Linked DNA regions of Homo sapiens. The protein of the gene in region 4 purifies or fractionates together with the protein of the main gene of each other region. This does not show direct contact. Each region holds a gene or a part of one and is shown on either strand. Other genes may lie near its edges.

The links.
Region 1: the proteins of SLCO4A1 (region 4) and OCLN purify together in Homo sapiens (affinity purification with mass spectrometry; one large-scale study listed by BioGRID and IntAct). This does not show direct contact.
Region 2: the proteins of SLCO4A1 (region 4) and ACADSB purify together in Homo sapiens (affinity purification with mass spectrometry; one large-scale study listed by BioGRID and IntAct). This does not show direct contact.
Region 3: the proteins of SLCO4A1 (region 4) and NFXL1 purify together in Homo sapiens (affinity purification with mass spectrometry; one large-scale study listed by BioGRID and IntAct). This does not show direct contact.

Annotation. Positions count from the first base shown.
Region 1 is NC_000005.10:69,499,290-69,502,789, forward strand, and holds part of OCLN (occludin), read left to right. Parts: intron 1-3,500. UniProt on the Homo sapiens protein: May play a role in the formation and regulation of the tight junction (TJ) paracellular permeability barrier.
Region 2 is NC_000010.11:123,050,506-123,054,005, reverse strand, and holds part of ACADSB (short/branched chain specific acyl-CoA dehydrogenase, mitochondrial isoform 1 precursor), read right to left. Parts: intron 2,958-3,500; coding exon 2,820-2,957; intron 946-2,819; coding exon 846-945; intron 312-845; coding exon 241-311; 3' UTR 1-240. UniProt on the Homo sapiens protein: Short and branched chain specific acyl-CoA dehydrogenase that catalyzes the removal of one hydrogen from C-2 and C-3 of the fatty acyl-CoA thioester, resulting in the formation of trans-2-enoyl-CoA.
Region 3 is NC_000004.12:47,852,084-47,855,583, forward strand, and holds part of NFXL1 (NF-X1-type zinc finger protein NFXL1), read right to left. Parts: intron 3,081-3,500; coding exon 2,976-3,080; intron 1-2,975.
Region 4 is NC_000020.11:62,655,311-62,660,310, reverse strand, and holds part of SLCO4A1 (solute carrier organic anion transporter family member 4A1), read right to left. Parts: intron 3,953-5,000; 5' UTR 3,857-3,952; coding exon 3,061-3,856; intron 1,635-3,060; coding exon 1,544-1,634; intron 1-1,543. UniProt on the Homo sapiens protein: Organic anion antiporter with apparent broad substrate specificity.

The DNA of each region.
Region 1 (3,500 bases), on a different chromosome or scaffold from region 4:
GTCTTGGACTCCTGGGTTCAAGTGATCTTCCTGCTTCAGCTTCCTAGAGTGTTGGGATTACAGGTGTGAGCCACTGTACCTGCCCTGTAATTTTTAATTTTTTTTTCCCCTGAATATTTTCTGTCTGAGGTTGGTTGAATCAGAATTTAAAACCCATGGATGTGGAGGGTCAGCTGTATTTGAAAATGGATACAATATACCTAAGTGCCTAAGCACTGAAATTTCTTACTTTCAGGATAACCACCTTATGATGAATGCAGTTGCCCATTTTCTTGAAGACTTTTTCTTGTGGTTTTTTTCTTTCTTTTTTTTTTGAGCCGGAGTCTCGCTCCGTCGCCAGGCTGGAGTGCAGTGGCGTGACCTCAGCTCACTGCAACCTCCTCCTCCTGGATTCAAGCGATTCTCCTGCCTCAGCCTCCTGAGTAGCTGGGGCTACAGGCGCGCGCCACCAAGCCCAGCTAATTTTTGTATTTTTTTAGTAGAGACAGGGTTTCACTATGTTGACCAGGATGGTCTTGATCTCTTGACCTCGTGATCCACCCGCCTCGGCCTCCCAAAGTGCTGGGATCACAGGCGTGAACCACTGCGCCCAGCTCTTTAAGACTTTTTCTTATCCCAGTGCAGAGGTCAGGATTATTCCCGCATTTGAGTGCACTTAGAGGAGATAAGGAATTTGTCTCAGATTGCGAGCCAGTAAATGGGGGCTGTTAAAACCACTAGGTTGTTTCAAACTCATCATTCTGACATTACAGAGATCTTGCTTAGTGTTGATGGCCCTAGCCAATGGGTTAGTTATCCTTTCCAGTGTGTTTGGTCAGCTGCAAATCTGGATAAGCGTGTCTCCTCCACTTTGTCTGTGTTTACCAGTGGAGACCTCCCACCAGGTGGACATAAATGGTTCATTCTTTTGTGCTAATTGGGTGCCGTAATCCAGCCCCTTGGGAATCTGCCCACCCACACAAGGATGTGCTCAAGATTTTCAGGATTCTTTCTCTCTGCATTCCCTGAAGAGGAAATAATAAAGGAGAAAATAAAATCCACCAGTTTGGTAACCTTCCCAGAAAAGGAAATGAAGTTGGTGTGGCATGACTTGTTCTTAACGAGCTTTCTTTTCTTTTTTTTTTTTTTGAGACGGAGTTTTGCTCTTTTTGCCCAGGCTGGAGTGCAATGGCGCAATACTGGCTCACTGCGAACTCCGCCTCCCAGGTTCAAGCAATTCTGCTACCTCAGCCTCCCAAGTAGCTGGGTTTACAGGCATGCACCACCACGCCCCTCTAATTTTTTGTATTTTTAGTAGAGATAGGGTTTCACCACATTGGTCAGCTGGTCTTGAACTCCAGACCTCATGTGATCCACCTGCCTCGGCCTCCCAAAGTGCTGGGATTACAGGCATGAGCCACATGATTTGGTTCACAATTTAAAATCCGTGCTTTTGGGGAGACGTGACAACTCTGAATCCTGGAAATAGCAGTTTGAAAAGGGATCTTGTTTGAATTTTTGACAACTTAAGACTGAGTCTGGATTAATTTAGAGTTTCCAAAACTACCACTGAACCTAGAATTTGGGGATATTTGACATTCAGCTTCAGAACTAGGATCCCACATTTAATAGTGCTTAACTTCAGATTTTCTGTTTTACTTTTTTTTTTTAAAGGAGTCTTGCTCTGTCACCCACGCTGGAGTGCAGTGGCACAATCTTGGCTCACTGCAACCTCCACCTCGGGCTCAAGCGATTCTCATGCCTCAGTTTCTCAAGTAGCTGGGATTACAGGCACGTGCCACCATGCCCAGCTAATTTTTGTATTTTTAGTAGAGACGGGGTTTTGCCATGATGGCCAGGCTGGTCTCGAACTCCTGACCTAGGGTGATCCACCTGTCTCCACCTCCCAAGTGCTGGAATTACAGGTGTGAGCCACCTCACCTGGCCTAAATTCAGTATTCCTTAATGTTCTTTTTCTGAAGACAATCTGGACTTTTGCCTTTTTATAGTACCATAACATTTTCGCCTAAATTGCTCATTTGTATGTGTGTTTCACCATTACTAGAATATAGAGAAATTGGCCAGGTGTATTGGCTCATGCCTGTAATCCCAGTACTTTGGGAGGCCAAGGCAGGTGGATAGCTTGAGCTCAGGGGTTTGAGACCAGCCTGGGCAACATGGTGAAACCTTATCTCTACTAAAAATACAAAAATTAGCCAGGCGTGGTGGCATGTGCCTGTAGTCCAGCTACTTGTGAGGCTGAGGCAGGAGGATTGCTTGAGCCTGGGAGGCAGGTTGTAGTGAGCTGAGATGATGGCACTGCATTTCATCCTGGGCAACAGAATGAGACCTTGTCTCAAAAGAAAAAAAAAAAAAGTATAGAGAAATTGACTTGAGTGCTAGTTACAGGGCTGTGTACACTTATGATTTGTGCACTTTTCTCTATGGTATACTTTAAAAGTGGCTTTTAAAAATGTAGAAAAGTCATCTTCCTTCATGTCTTTGGAAAATTATGCTAATTGTGTTGGTGTTATTAACATTCTATATATTTCCATCTTTGAGGATTTATCTAATACATAGTTGGGCAGGGTTTAATTCTGAGAGATTTGAAATACACTGTCCTAAAGGGTATAGAAGAGAGTTGCCAGGTGGGGCGTGGTGGCTCATGCCTGTAATCCCAGCACTTTGGGAGGCCAAGGAGGGCAGATTGCCTGAGCTCAGGAGTTTGACACCAGACTGTGCAACATGGTGAAACCCCATCTTTACTAAAAATACAAACAATTAGCCGGGCGTGGCAGCGTGCGCCTGTAGTCCCAGCTACTCGGGAGGCTGAGGCAGGAGAATCGCTTGAAGCCGGGAGGCGGAGATTGCAGTGAGCTGAGATCATGCCATTGCATTCCATCCTGGTGACAGAGCGAGACTCGGCTCAAAAAAAAAAAAAAGAGTTGCCATTAATTTAAAAAAAAGTTTTAAGAGTCTGAATTGATGTACTGTTGTTAATATATTAATGTATGATTGTACAGACCGTATTAGAAAAGGAAAAAAAATCAGATACTTTAATGTACTCATTATAGATGTTACTCAAGTGTCATTCAGGGATCATACCTTTTAAAGTTACTCTGATACTTTTCCGTTACCTTCAACTTGAAAGCACAAGAGGTTTTGCAGGCAGAGATATCCATGGTCCAATCTGGTTCCTGTAAACATTCAACAAATTATCTGGACGTCTACTATGTGCCAGGCATTGATTTAATCAGTGAACAAAACATGCAAAAATTCCTGCTCACATGGAATTTACCTTCCAGTAGATCTCAAAGTTCCCTACTCTACTAATCACTGGTATAACCTGGAAAGAATTTATTGTTGGTTCAACATAGCTAAGGAGTGGCATGAAGTTCTGTAGCTGATGTGGGAAGTACCTTGCCAGTGTCTCCAGCACTGGGTTTTCTAGAATAATCCTCAAGCTTTATAGGTTAGGGGGTTGTGTGTTTACCACATCTTGCTGAGACTTGTCTTTTTCC
Region 2 (3,500 bases), on a different chromosome or scaffold from region 4:
TTGGAAAAAAATACAGGTGCTTATTTCCCAAGTTTAAAAGTGGATCTCCTGTGCCTAAGTTAAACAGCCTGAAAAGAGAAAACCAAAAAGGCCAACACCAGGACCCTGACTAAGGGCTTCATTAAAATATTCGAATGCTGTGGAAGTTTATTCCCACGCAAGGCACTTACTCCCAACAAGACACAACCGTTTAAAATTTTACAGCAGTGACACCAGGGAGGGGTCCCACTCCTATAGACGTCAGTATTCTGCATCGATATGCTTTGCAATGGTGTTCAACTGGATGTTGGAAGCTCCTTCATATATCGTACCTTAAGCAAAAGGAAGCAGAAGGAACAATGAGGAGTTGGCGCATGGTTAAGACAAGAAATAGCTCTATAAACATCACCTCTGCGCTTGCTATAAAACAGTTACTAGTCACATCACTTCATGTCCCCTGAATATGGTACTATTTCACAGTAATTTTGACTAAGAGATGACAATTTTCCATTTGGTTTCTCGATGTCCAGGATCAGTATTAAACTGACTAAAGGTGTAAACAAAAGTTGAAGATTTTGATTCTTCAACAATTGATGCATAAGCTCAGACTGTTATTTGTGGCAGTTTTACTAAAAAGCCTGTTGAGGCATTTAAAAAGGCAATTTGATATTTTTTAAAAATATAGAACAATTTTTTTTGAAGGACGAGGTAAGAAAAAAATCCAGCCACATAAATAGAGCCACCAAACATATACTGAAGAAATTAAAATTGCTTTTACCTAGGAAAAAAACGACAAATAAAACAGCCAAAATACCTACAGAGGCAAATAAAACAAAATAAAATGTAAAAAAAAAAAATCTATTTACCAATCTTTGCATCTCGGAAGTATTTCTCCACAGGGTAATCTTTGGTGTAGCCTACTCCCCCCATCCACTCGATACATTTACTCGTTGTTTGTCCTGCAATCTACCAAAAGCAAGTGCAAATCACACACTGAAACCACATAACTTATACATGATAAACACTTCTGGGTAACATTTTCAGCAACATGGATTTACTGTTAGTGGCACTGGAAGGACTAAAGTTATCTTCTAAACTAGCATTGTCTCTTCAGTCCCATTCTCCATACCATTTCTGTAAAACATCCTATTAATTCACAGAATCCCCATTTTCTTAAGAAATTAGAGCATTGTTCACATGAATCTGCATGCTGAGAGATATCATTTATTCAGGAAATGTTTACTGGGGGCCTAACGGACGAGCTAAGGGACATTTCAAGCTGAGGACCAACACGTCGAAATCCTCCAAGGGGAGAATGAGCTCTTCAACTTCCAGCCCCTGAGACAGCCAGTGGGCTGGGATCGGGGTGAAATGTGAAAAGAGAATGGAGGAGCGAGAGACCCTGCAGAATGGCCCCTCAAGGACGTCCACATCCTAGCCCTCAGAGCTGTGAATATGCTGCCTTCCATGGCAATAGGGACTCTGCAGATGTGGGTAAGGACACGAGATGGAGAGATTACCCTGAATTATCTGGGTGGCTGTGATATAATCACAGGGATCCTTATAAGGAAAAGGAGGAGGCAGGAGAGTTAGTCATGGAAGGTGACGTGACCATGGAGACAGGAAGCAGAGTCAGAGAGAGATCTGAACATGCCACATTGTTGGCTTTGAAGATGGAGGAAGGGGCTACGAGTCAAGGAATGTGAGCAGCCCCTAGAAGCTGGAAACAACTGTCTGCCAGAACCACAGAAAGGCAGCCCCTGTATTCCAGTGAGACCCATTTCAGATTTCTGACCTCTAGAAGTGACAGAAAATGAAACTGCGTTGTTTTAGGTCCCCGACTTTTTGGTAATTTGTTATAGCAGCAATTGGAATCTAGTACAGATAGAGCTCCATTTGTTGTGAGAAGCCACTGAAGGGTTAAAGCTGGAAGGTGACATGGCCTCACTGCCACTTTGAAAAAGGAGAGAGGCTGGATGGGAGGAAGCACCAGGGACCAGGAGGGCAGTGAGGTGACTGAAGTACAGAGGTGGCAGTGGAGAGGGAGACAAACACACCATTTAAGGAATCTTTTAGGGGTAGAATCATAGGAAATGATGCTGGACTCAATGTGGGGGGTGAGGGAAAGCAGGGTGCCAAGATGACGCTCAGGTTCTGATGGTGAAGCAGAAGTTGGACATGTTAGTCTGGAATTCAGAAAGAAGTTGAGGTAGGATATTTAATTTATGGGCTGGAGAGGTTAAATGAGAATTTAAAGCCATGGAATGAATAAGATACTGCTGAGGCTACGAAACAGCTGCCCAGTGATTTGGCTAAATTCTCTAGCCTCAGTCTAATGTGTTAGCTCTAGAAAGCAAATGTATGAGTAGAAAGTTTTAGACAATCTTTTCTTGGTGTTTTAAATCTGATTTGTTCACATGATGGACCCATCATCTTCCACGGCATTCACTTTGCCCGAACTTGACACCATAGGCATGACACCCTCATTCAGAGGAGGCTCAGCCATGGATTTGAGATGGGTGGTCTATCTGAGCTGGGCTACTCACGAAACATGGAGACCTCACAGAACTGAAGGTTTTCCTATGGCAGTTTGAGATGGGTGGTCTAGCTGAGCTGGGCTACTCAACGAAACATTGAGACCTCACAGAATTCAAGTGTTTTCCTATGGCAGTTTTCCTTTTTTGCTTTTCTATTATAAGAAATAAAAGTCCATGTTATCTTAACTTGAAAAACAACCAAAGTACAATCAACATTCCCAAGAGAAAATGTTAATAAGTATATATCTGAAAAAAAAAAGGCTGAATTACTTTTTCCTTTTTTTTTTTTTTTTTTTTTTTTACCTCTGATGCATAGTATTTGGCCATTGACGCTTCTTTTATGAATGGCTTTCCAGCTTCTAAAAGCCTAGCAGCATTGTATGTTAGTAATCTTGCAGCTTCCAGCTGGGTGGCCACGTGAGCCACTTGGTGTTGGAGGCCCTGTAACAGTCAGGCCCAAGTTAGAGAATTATGATTTCAAAAAAGCAAGCACCTCAACCTCAAAGTCCTGCCTAGATACACAACACTGACAGACTCAAAATACACCCCAAAGGAAATTTACATTCACGTCTTTTAAATACTTTAAAATGAGTAATCTAAAATGAAATGTGACACTATAAGTATTGTTAAATCCTCTTTTCCTAGAAAAACTTCAAAGTTCATGTAAGTCTTCATGATTTTCAAGATTTAAATAGTAAAGTATAACAAAGTTAGGTTTAAAAACTTGACTGTTATATTTAATAATTATTTCAACTCTCTTTTGATCAAAATTGAGCTTAAATGAAATCCTGGCACAGCAAAACTTTGAATATATTCTTTATTTGCTTGAGTTAAGAAAATTTTGATTTTTCATATGGCTTCCAGGCATTAAAAAATGTTAGCTACAAAGTAATGAAGAATATTTGAAGCACCAATTACTACCACCCTGAAATTTTAGAGGGTGATTAGGTCCATACTAAATGTTTGCCAATGAAAGAAACAACA
Region 3 (3,500 bases), on a different chromosome or scaffold from region 4:
CATTAAATATCTGCTTCAAATAGTGATTACTTGCTTATTTTCTCTTAACTTAAAAAAGAGAATACCATAAAATTTTTAAAAATCAACTTAATAATTACTATGTGCCACTATTGGACTTAGCTCCCATGTTGTTTTTATTCTTTACTTTTCTTTATTGTTTGTTATTCTTGCAAAGTGTCCAGGGAATACAATGTTCTACAAATGTGCTGTCCAACAGAGCTTCCTGGTATGTGCGTGGGATGGAATGTTGTAAATCTGCATTAGTCCACAGAGTAGCACTAGCCACATATGGCTACTGAGCACTTGAAATGTGGGTAGTGAAAATGAGGAACCAAATTTTTAATACTGTTTTATGCTAATTCATTACAATTTGCATTTAAATATCCACATGTGACTAGTGGCTACCATCTCAGATAGTGCAGCTCTAGAGAGTTTTCTGGGGAGCTACAAATTTTTCTCTCGACTGTTAAACTTTTTTTAAGTTTAGATGAAAATTGTTCTAAAGCTTATGTTGGCACTTCACTACCTCCTTAATGAAAGAACACTGATCTACTGTTTTTGATGTCTTGACATCAAAACTATGACCAATTTCTGTACTACGACAGAATAAAACGATGACCTACTGAGTTGAAGAGTGGTCTTTATATTAGTTTTAGACTGCCTTTTGTAGTACATCTATCTTTTATTCATTCATTTATTGCTGCCAATGTCACTTTTACTCTCAGTATATTTAATTTGTATCAGTTTCTCCTGTCTCACCAGACCCTCAGACTCTAGTTTTTTGTTCAAATCTACCACAGCTTAGACATGAGATTACCAAATCCTGAGTAAAGTGCATTTAGTAAAAGCATTTTATGGCATGGAATTTTATTACTTGGAGGGTTTTTTTTTTTTTATTCCTTAGTTCTTCATTTTTGGCTTGATTTAGTGATAAACATAGTCTTGTCCTCCAAAGACAGTCCAGACATAAGAAAATTAACATGAACAAACACTGGAGACAAAAATAAGTATCGTGTGTTTATAGACATTAAGTCCATCAGCTTAGAAGAGGATTTTATCTTTTCTCATTCAGAGGATACTTACAGAGTGCCTATAACATGCTAAACACCATGACAGGGAAATGGAACACAGTAAGAAATAAACAGTATAATCATCTGTTAAGTGCTAAATAAATAACAATAGTAATTGCAGCTACTATTTATTACACATAGCATTGTTTTAAATGCTATGTAAGCACTACCTCTTTTATAGTAATGGCAGCTACTATTTATTAAACATAGCATTGTTTTAAATGCTATGTAAGCACTACCTCTTTTATTCCTTTCAATAAATCTCTATAAACTCTATTTTACAGATGAGGAAACAAGGTTACAGATACCTAGAATCACAAAGCTCTACATTATGAACCCAGTACAAAGAAAGTCAAGAGGAAGGAACAGCTAAGCCTTCCCAAGGGAACCTGGGGAAGGAAAACCTTCTCAAACAAGGAAGTGCTTCCAATAAGTATTAGCAGGATTCTAGTAAGCAGAGAGCTAAAGGAAAAACATATTGTATTTTACACAGGAAAAAAATATATATACATTGCCACAGCCTAAGCTAAGCGAGGGTACAATATATGTATTAGGGCACTTAAGTAACAGATTCACAGAGATGATTGCTAGATGACGAGACTGAACAAGCAGGCAAATGTCTTATCATAGCCTCCCTGGTATGCCGAGTCTGCATATACCTACACATACACATTTTTTATACAATGCACTTTTTCCATAAGTGATGAAGAGCCATTGAAGAATTTAGAACAGGGAAGTGGTGTGACTAGAGACAAGGAAATGGGTCACGAAGTTGTGGCCAAAGCCCAGAAAAGAGTTGTTCCAAAGTACTAACGGGTGGGTGGCATATGGCACTTGGACAAGACATGAGATTTCAGAGAAAACTTAAGAGACATCTCACATTAAAAATGGCTTGACCAAGTATTTATTTTCAGGTACAGGGGGTCAATTTAAATATCTAAAACTTAAAGATTCCACTCCCTAAAAGGCCAAGTGTATAAATTTAAATTCAGAAGTTCCCTATCCTAGGAAAACATATCAGAAACTATGAACATAAATGAAAGGCAAAGGACCTATAAAAGATCCTCAATACATATCCATCACATGGATGAATAAAAGCGAATTTCAAGAGACAAAAAAGACAAGCTTTAGGGAATGACAATAGGAATATGAAGGAAAAAAAAGGAGTTACGACTATAACTGAGATAGGGTAAATCAGAGGTCAAAAAAGTTGGTTTCAAAGGAGTAAGCACTGCCAACAGGGAAGATCAAGGAAACAGAGAATTGAGAAAAAGACTATTAGGACAGTATATTTTCCTTCATAAGTTTTGTTGAGCAGTATATAGTTTGTTTCCATCAGGCTTTGTAATCATTAGTTTTTGCCCATTTACTCCTCTGTTACCATCATTTTATCTTAAAATTAGTTCTTTCCAAGTTTACATGTTATTTTACTTTATAAGGCTATTCATATGAGGTCTTTTTAAGGCAATATTTTCAAAGGACAATACTGATGGTAAAAAGAATTTCATAAATAACAGCAACAAAGTTAATCTCAAGCCATTTCTTAAGCAATGAAACATTCTACCCGTTACATTGTGTTCCTTGTTCAAAGACCTCAAATCTAAAGCACATTGACCAAAACAGGGCATTGAATTTGGTTCCAACATAAAAAATAATTTTCCTTTTACTGTTAAATTGCAGAAAATTAAATCGCCAAAGCTTATGTTTAAAATAAATGTTTAAAGAACTAGTAGGCTCATTTCAATAATAAAAAAGTTCTATGAAGTAAAACCTCAAAATTAAAAGGCAAAAAAAAAAAAAAAAGCCAAACAACTACCAAAACACATAGATCAAAAAACAAGAACAAGAAAACCACACAAAAACAACTTATATAGAAAAGTATTTTCAATAACTTAAAATATTTACCTTTTTTATTCTTTTACAAGGACATCTAAGTTTTACCTTCTGGTTGCAGTTAAAGGGACATTCACCAGGATGACACATCTCTTTGCATCTATGACCACAAGGAAGCTAAAATAAAATCAAAATAAAGCAATTACATACTTACATCTTGATCATACTCTAGTTTCCCCCATACCCCAACAATTTTAAGAGAGTCCATCACACAAAGGGTCAATCAATCCTAGCTAATGGGATAATTTGTAAACTATTTTTCTTTTAGATATAAATTATTTTAATTACACTTATATAATTTAATTATATATATATAATTTAATTATATTTAATTATTCTCCCCAGCTCCATTCCAACAGTACATCTTACAGCCACCCTTGTAGCTAGTTATAGCCATATAACTGAGTTCTGGTCAATGGAATGTAAGCAAGTACAGGTGATTCATGCTTCAGATCATTTCAAGAGTATACTTCCATGTTCTTCTCTTCCCCATGTCCTGGATATGATGAAAGCTGGAGCGGTAATGGAAACCATATG
Region 4 (5,000 bases):
AGGGTCTGTCTGCACGCTGGTCAACACAGGCCCCTGGTGCTGCTGGCCACAGGTCCTGTCCCTTCCTTGCAGACTAAAGCAAACACCACCTTGGCTTAGCTGTCCCCCAAGACAGATGGCTCCATGCCTTGGCCCACGCTCCAGGGCTGGAGATGCCACCTGTGGCCTGGTCCTGAGACCACGGTGGGGTTGGGCACTAAGAGGAGCAGCCTCTCCAGGCAACAGCGGGAGGAGGCATCCCTCCCCACAGTGCAGAGGATGACAGATGGGGTTCCCAGGGACGCCAGAGGGCTCAGCTGGAGCTCACTGAGAGCTCCCCACGAAGGGACTGTTGTGCACGTGGCAATTTGCACATAAGTGCTTTCAAACGAAAAGGCGAGTGGAAAATAACCATGGGCTGAGGCGGCCGTGGAGTGGTAGAAGCCCATCCAAGCTCTGGGCATCCAGGGACGCGTCTTCACAGTGAGGACAAGCTCTGGGCTTTCGGGGATGTGTCTTCACAGTGAGGCAGCGGCGGGAGGGCAAAAGGCCAGCAAAGGCCGGGAGCAGAGCCGCAGAGACAGACAGAGGACACAGGGAGCGCCAACACCCTGCAAGGCTGCAGCCAGGCGGCACCTGCTTGCTCCAGCGCAGAAATGCTGCGGCCGCCTCCGGGGGCCAGACCCCGCTCTGCCTCCCCACTTTGTGCAAAGTGGGCCCAGATCCCGGAGCCAGAAGGGGCACAGAGACTGAGAGAAGCATCCAGACCCGGGACACGAGCTCCAGCCTACCTCCAGGCTCTGCCCAGAACGCACACACTTGACCCCACATTATCAATCCGAGGCCAGAGGGGCTTTTGTAAGAGGTCAGAGTGCTAGAGACCTCCAGGAGAGGCGCCATCTGCAGAAAGAGTCCCAAGGTGCAGCGGTGCCCAGGCCGAGTAACAGAGGACCTTGGAAACTTCACAAGTGCAGGATGGGCAAGGGATGAATGGGGGGCCCAAACCCACAGAGCACTGGCGGTCAGCAAGGACATGTCTCCTCTGCCTCCCCATCTCCATCTGTCTCTGTCTCTCTCTGCCTGTCGCTGTCTTCTTTCTGTCCCTCTGTATCTCTATCTCCATCTGTCTCTGTGAATTGGTCTGTCTCTACGTGTCTTTCCCTCTGTCTCTCTCTGCCTCTCCCTCCACCCCTCCTTGCTTTCTCCTGCTTACATTTACAGAAACTAGGGTCACACACACAAGATACAAAGAAAGGAAAAGAAACAGAAAAATCTCAGTTTCATTAGGGAACTAGTGGCCAGGGCTCGCTGGGCTTTGCAAGCGCTTAGGCCTCGGGCACTGCCTGCCTGCCCTGCCTCCTGCCCTGGGGCCGACTCCCAAGGCCCCTACAGATCCTCCGAGTCCTCCAGAGCCAAGGCCAGCCTTGACTCCCTCCAGCCCGGGGGGTGCCCAGCACCTGCGCCGCGCCCGGCCTGACTCAGAGTGGGCCCTGCTGACTCTGAACCCCCTTCCAGAGACACGTGGGCCTCTCCAGCGCAGGCAGCTGGGTGCGCGGCCACTCACCGTCGGCCCATTTCCGTGTAGATATTCAGCAGGGCACCTCCAATCAGGTAGCCGGCAGCTGGGCCCAGGATGGCCGCTGTGTAGAAGATGGCTGCGAGAGAGGCAGAGGCGTCAGGGCCGCTGTGCACCACCCAGGGGCTGCGGAGGGCCGTGTGGGGCCCCGTGCCTGGGAGAAGCCCCGCACCCGCCATTCTGCATCTCCGGCCCACTCCCCTCATGGGCCTCTTTAAGTTAGATGAGTCTGTGCAGTTGCCACTGGGCCTGATATGGGTCAGCATCAATCTTTAAAAATCCCCCTCAAAGCCAAGTGCACTGTCTTTCCCTTACGAAAGGGCAAAGGCCCTCGAAGCCCCGTTTGCAGGGCGTCTAAGTAGCCGCACAGATGGACACTGGCAGGAATTAGGGGCCCAGGGTGGGGAAAGGGACCAGAGAGGCCTGAGCCCCTCCGCCCAGCCACGCTCACTCTCCCACAGGCCGGGATTTGGAAGGCTCGGTGTGGTGGGACGTCCCCTCGCTGGAGTGAGGTGATCTCAACACCCGCCTGGGTTCTTGGGACGAGCACTGCCAGGTGACTGGGATGAGCAGAGCTCAAGGAGGACATGAGGAGGCTGAGGTCACTGCAGAGTCCGGCTGGGGCCAGCTGCTCCCCGTGACCATCCTACGATGCCCTTCCCGGGAGAGCCAAGCCAGGCAGGGGGACGCCGAGAAGTGGGGTCAGGCGGGCCGTGCACTGGGTCAACTCGGCCATGTCGGACGGGCCATGGGGCTTCCCTACATCTCAACAAACAGGAGCAGGAAGCCAGTGAGGGGCCCAGGGCTGCCCCAGGGCAGTGAGCTCAGCTGCCTAGCATAGAGTTATAACATAGATCTTTACTCTTAGATAGCTGTGAAGCAGCCATGAGCTGCTTCATGTTATTTTTCCCCTTAAAGTTCTGACTCTCCAGATTTGCTCGGTCTTTTCCACACCCCTATGTGGCTGCCGGAGCAGACACGGTGCTTACGGGCAGACGTGGGTGTGGTCTCAGGGCTCTGTCCCTCCACCTCTATGTGGCTGATGGAGCCAACATGGTGCTTTCAGGGAAACATGGGTGTGGCCTTGGGGCTCTGTCCCTCGTCACTTATCCCACATCAAACTCCTTCCCAGGCAAGTGCCAGGTTCCCAGCCGGAGCATGAGGTCTGCCGCCATTGGACCTGGTGCCACCCAGCGCCTAGTGACTGTGCCCCTTGGTCCTGGCAAGGTGGGCTGGACACCACGCAGGGGTTGCACTGAGGCTCCCGGGCACAGCGGCCTGGAGCCCTGAGCAGGGTCCACATGAGAAAGCCGGAGTCCCTTACATCAGCTTTGGGCCTCAGGGCGGACCCTCCTCCCCTGCCAACTCTTGCAGCAGCCCCAGGGCCATGCAGACAAGGGGTACACGAAGGCAGGGGGCGGGGCTGGCTCCGGCCAGTTACCCTCACTCCTGCAACACTGCCCTCAGCCACCCCTGCCAGCACTTACCCCGCCAGCCCCACTCACCAATGTAGACGGGCGAGCAGCTGGACTTGACGTTCTCATCCAGGTAGGTGACGCCCAGCGTGTAGAGGGGTGTGGCACCCACGCCATGCAGGAACTGGCCCAGCATGAAGACCAGCTGGTAGCGGGACAGGCCCGAGGTGCTGTCCGCACACACCGCGCCGGGGTTGGCAGGGCACGTCCTGACACCCGCGTCCAACTCCACCTCATAGCGGCCAGCCGTGAAGTGGGGCAGCGCGAACACCAGCGACCCCGTGCCCATAAGCAGCACGCCCCAGCCCAGCCAGCGCGGCTTGTGCCCTGAGCCCCCGAAGTAGCTGACGAAGGTGAGGCAGAGGCAGGCGGCAATGTCGTAGGAGCTGGCGATGAGCCCGCTCTGGTAGCTGTGCAGGTCATAGCGGCGCTCCAGGGAGGTGATGACTGTGTTGATGAAGCCATTCACAGTCATCCCCTGCAGGAATGCGGCCGCACACAGGAAGAACAGGATGCCCTTGGGCGTGTTGAGGACCTGCAGGCACGGCGGTGCGAAGGCCCACCAGCCGCACGCCACGCTCTGCCCGGCCGAGACGTACCGCACCTCATGGGTCCCCCGGGCGCCATGCTTCTCGGCCCAGAGCTGGCAGAGGGGCTGCTTGCTGGTGTCCAGGGGGCTATGGGCAGCGGAGCGGAGGGAGCCGGGGCTCAGGGGTGTGCCCGGGGATGCCCTCCTGCTGGGTGGGGTGTGGTCAAGCCCGTTTTCCATGGCTGAGTTGGGGCTGGGGAAGGTGAGCGGCTTGTCCCCCAGCTGATGCAGGGGCATCTCCGCGCCTCCGCCTGGTGACCTCGAGGCTTCAGCCACGCAGTGGGAGTGGCCTCAGCGGGAGTGGCCAAGTGGTATCCGAGGGGCTGGTGTGTCCTGTGAGAAGAATGTCTGGTTAGCAAGCTCACGTCTCTCCACGGGTACAGCACATCCAGGAGGGAACATTCCAGCACACCCATCACGGGGGTGGCTCAAAGCTCTGCCTGCCTTGTCTCAAGAGCCTCCCAAATCCAGGGTGGCGTCTGGCCAGGCCCACACCCAGGCACTGTGTCTCCCAGCCACAGCTCCGCTGCGGAAAGGTGGGGGGCTGTGCCCAGCTTGCTCACAGGGACTCAATTCCTGCCCTTTTTAGAACTGTTGGAAGGAGAAGCTGCCGCTTCAGCGGTGTGGCGTCAGGGCTGTGACGGGGGCAAGGCCTACTGAGATGGGGCCACGCGGTGGAGAGTGGAGCTGAGACGCAGAGGCCGAGTCAGACACTGGGGTCCCAGGTCACCCCGCCCTGGCCCCGCTCGCTGTGTCAGCCACGTCCCCTGCCATTTGCAGCCAAGTGGCCCTGATGGACTCCACCTTGGTCCTGGAGCCTGACCTTGTTCTTCCTTAAGTTCACACCCGGCAGCTCTCTGCACCCTTTGGCGTGAGGAAGGAGCTCCTCTCCGTGCAGAGTTTGGGAGGTGCAGGAATGAGCTGGAAGCAGCCTCCTGGGCCACGTGAGCCCCCAGCACCGGAAACACCCCCGGCCGCCAAGCTCCGGCCGCTGCTGGGTCAGCCTGTGGCTAACAGGAGTTGCAGTCGGCAGCCATGTAGACCAGTTACCAGGAGAACGTGCCCACGTGCCACCTTCCTTCTGAACCCTGCGCTGCCCCTGCCCCACTGCCCTCACCAGCCCTGTTCCCCACCATCCCGAGGCTCCACAGGGCACCGCCTCACTCCCCACACCAATTCCTGGAGCAACAGCTCCCCCCTACTGCCCAAGGCCTTCTGGGGAACCCAGGTGGCTGTAGCCTCTCTGCATCTTAAGGGCTTTCCCCGTCAGAAATAAACCGGCGAATAAACAGGGCTGCTATGATGCGGAACACCTGTGCCGCCCCCGCCCTGGGAGGGTCCTTCCCGGGGCTGCTGTGATACAGAACACCTGTGCCGCCCC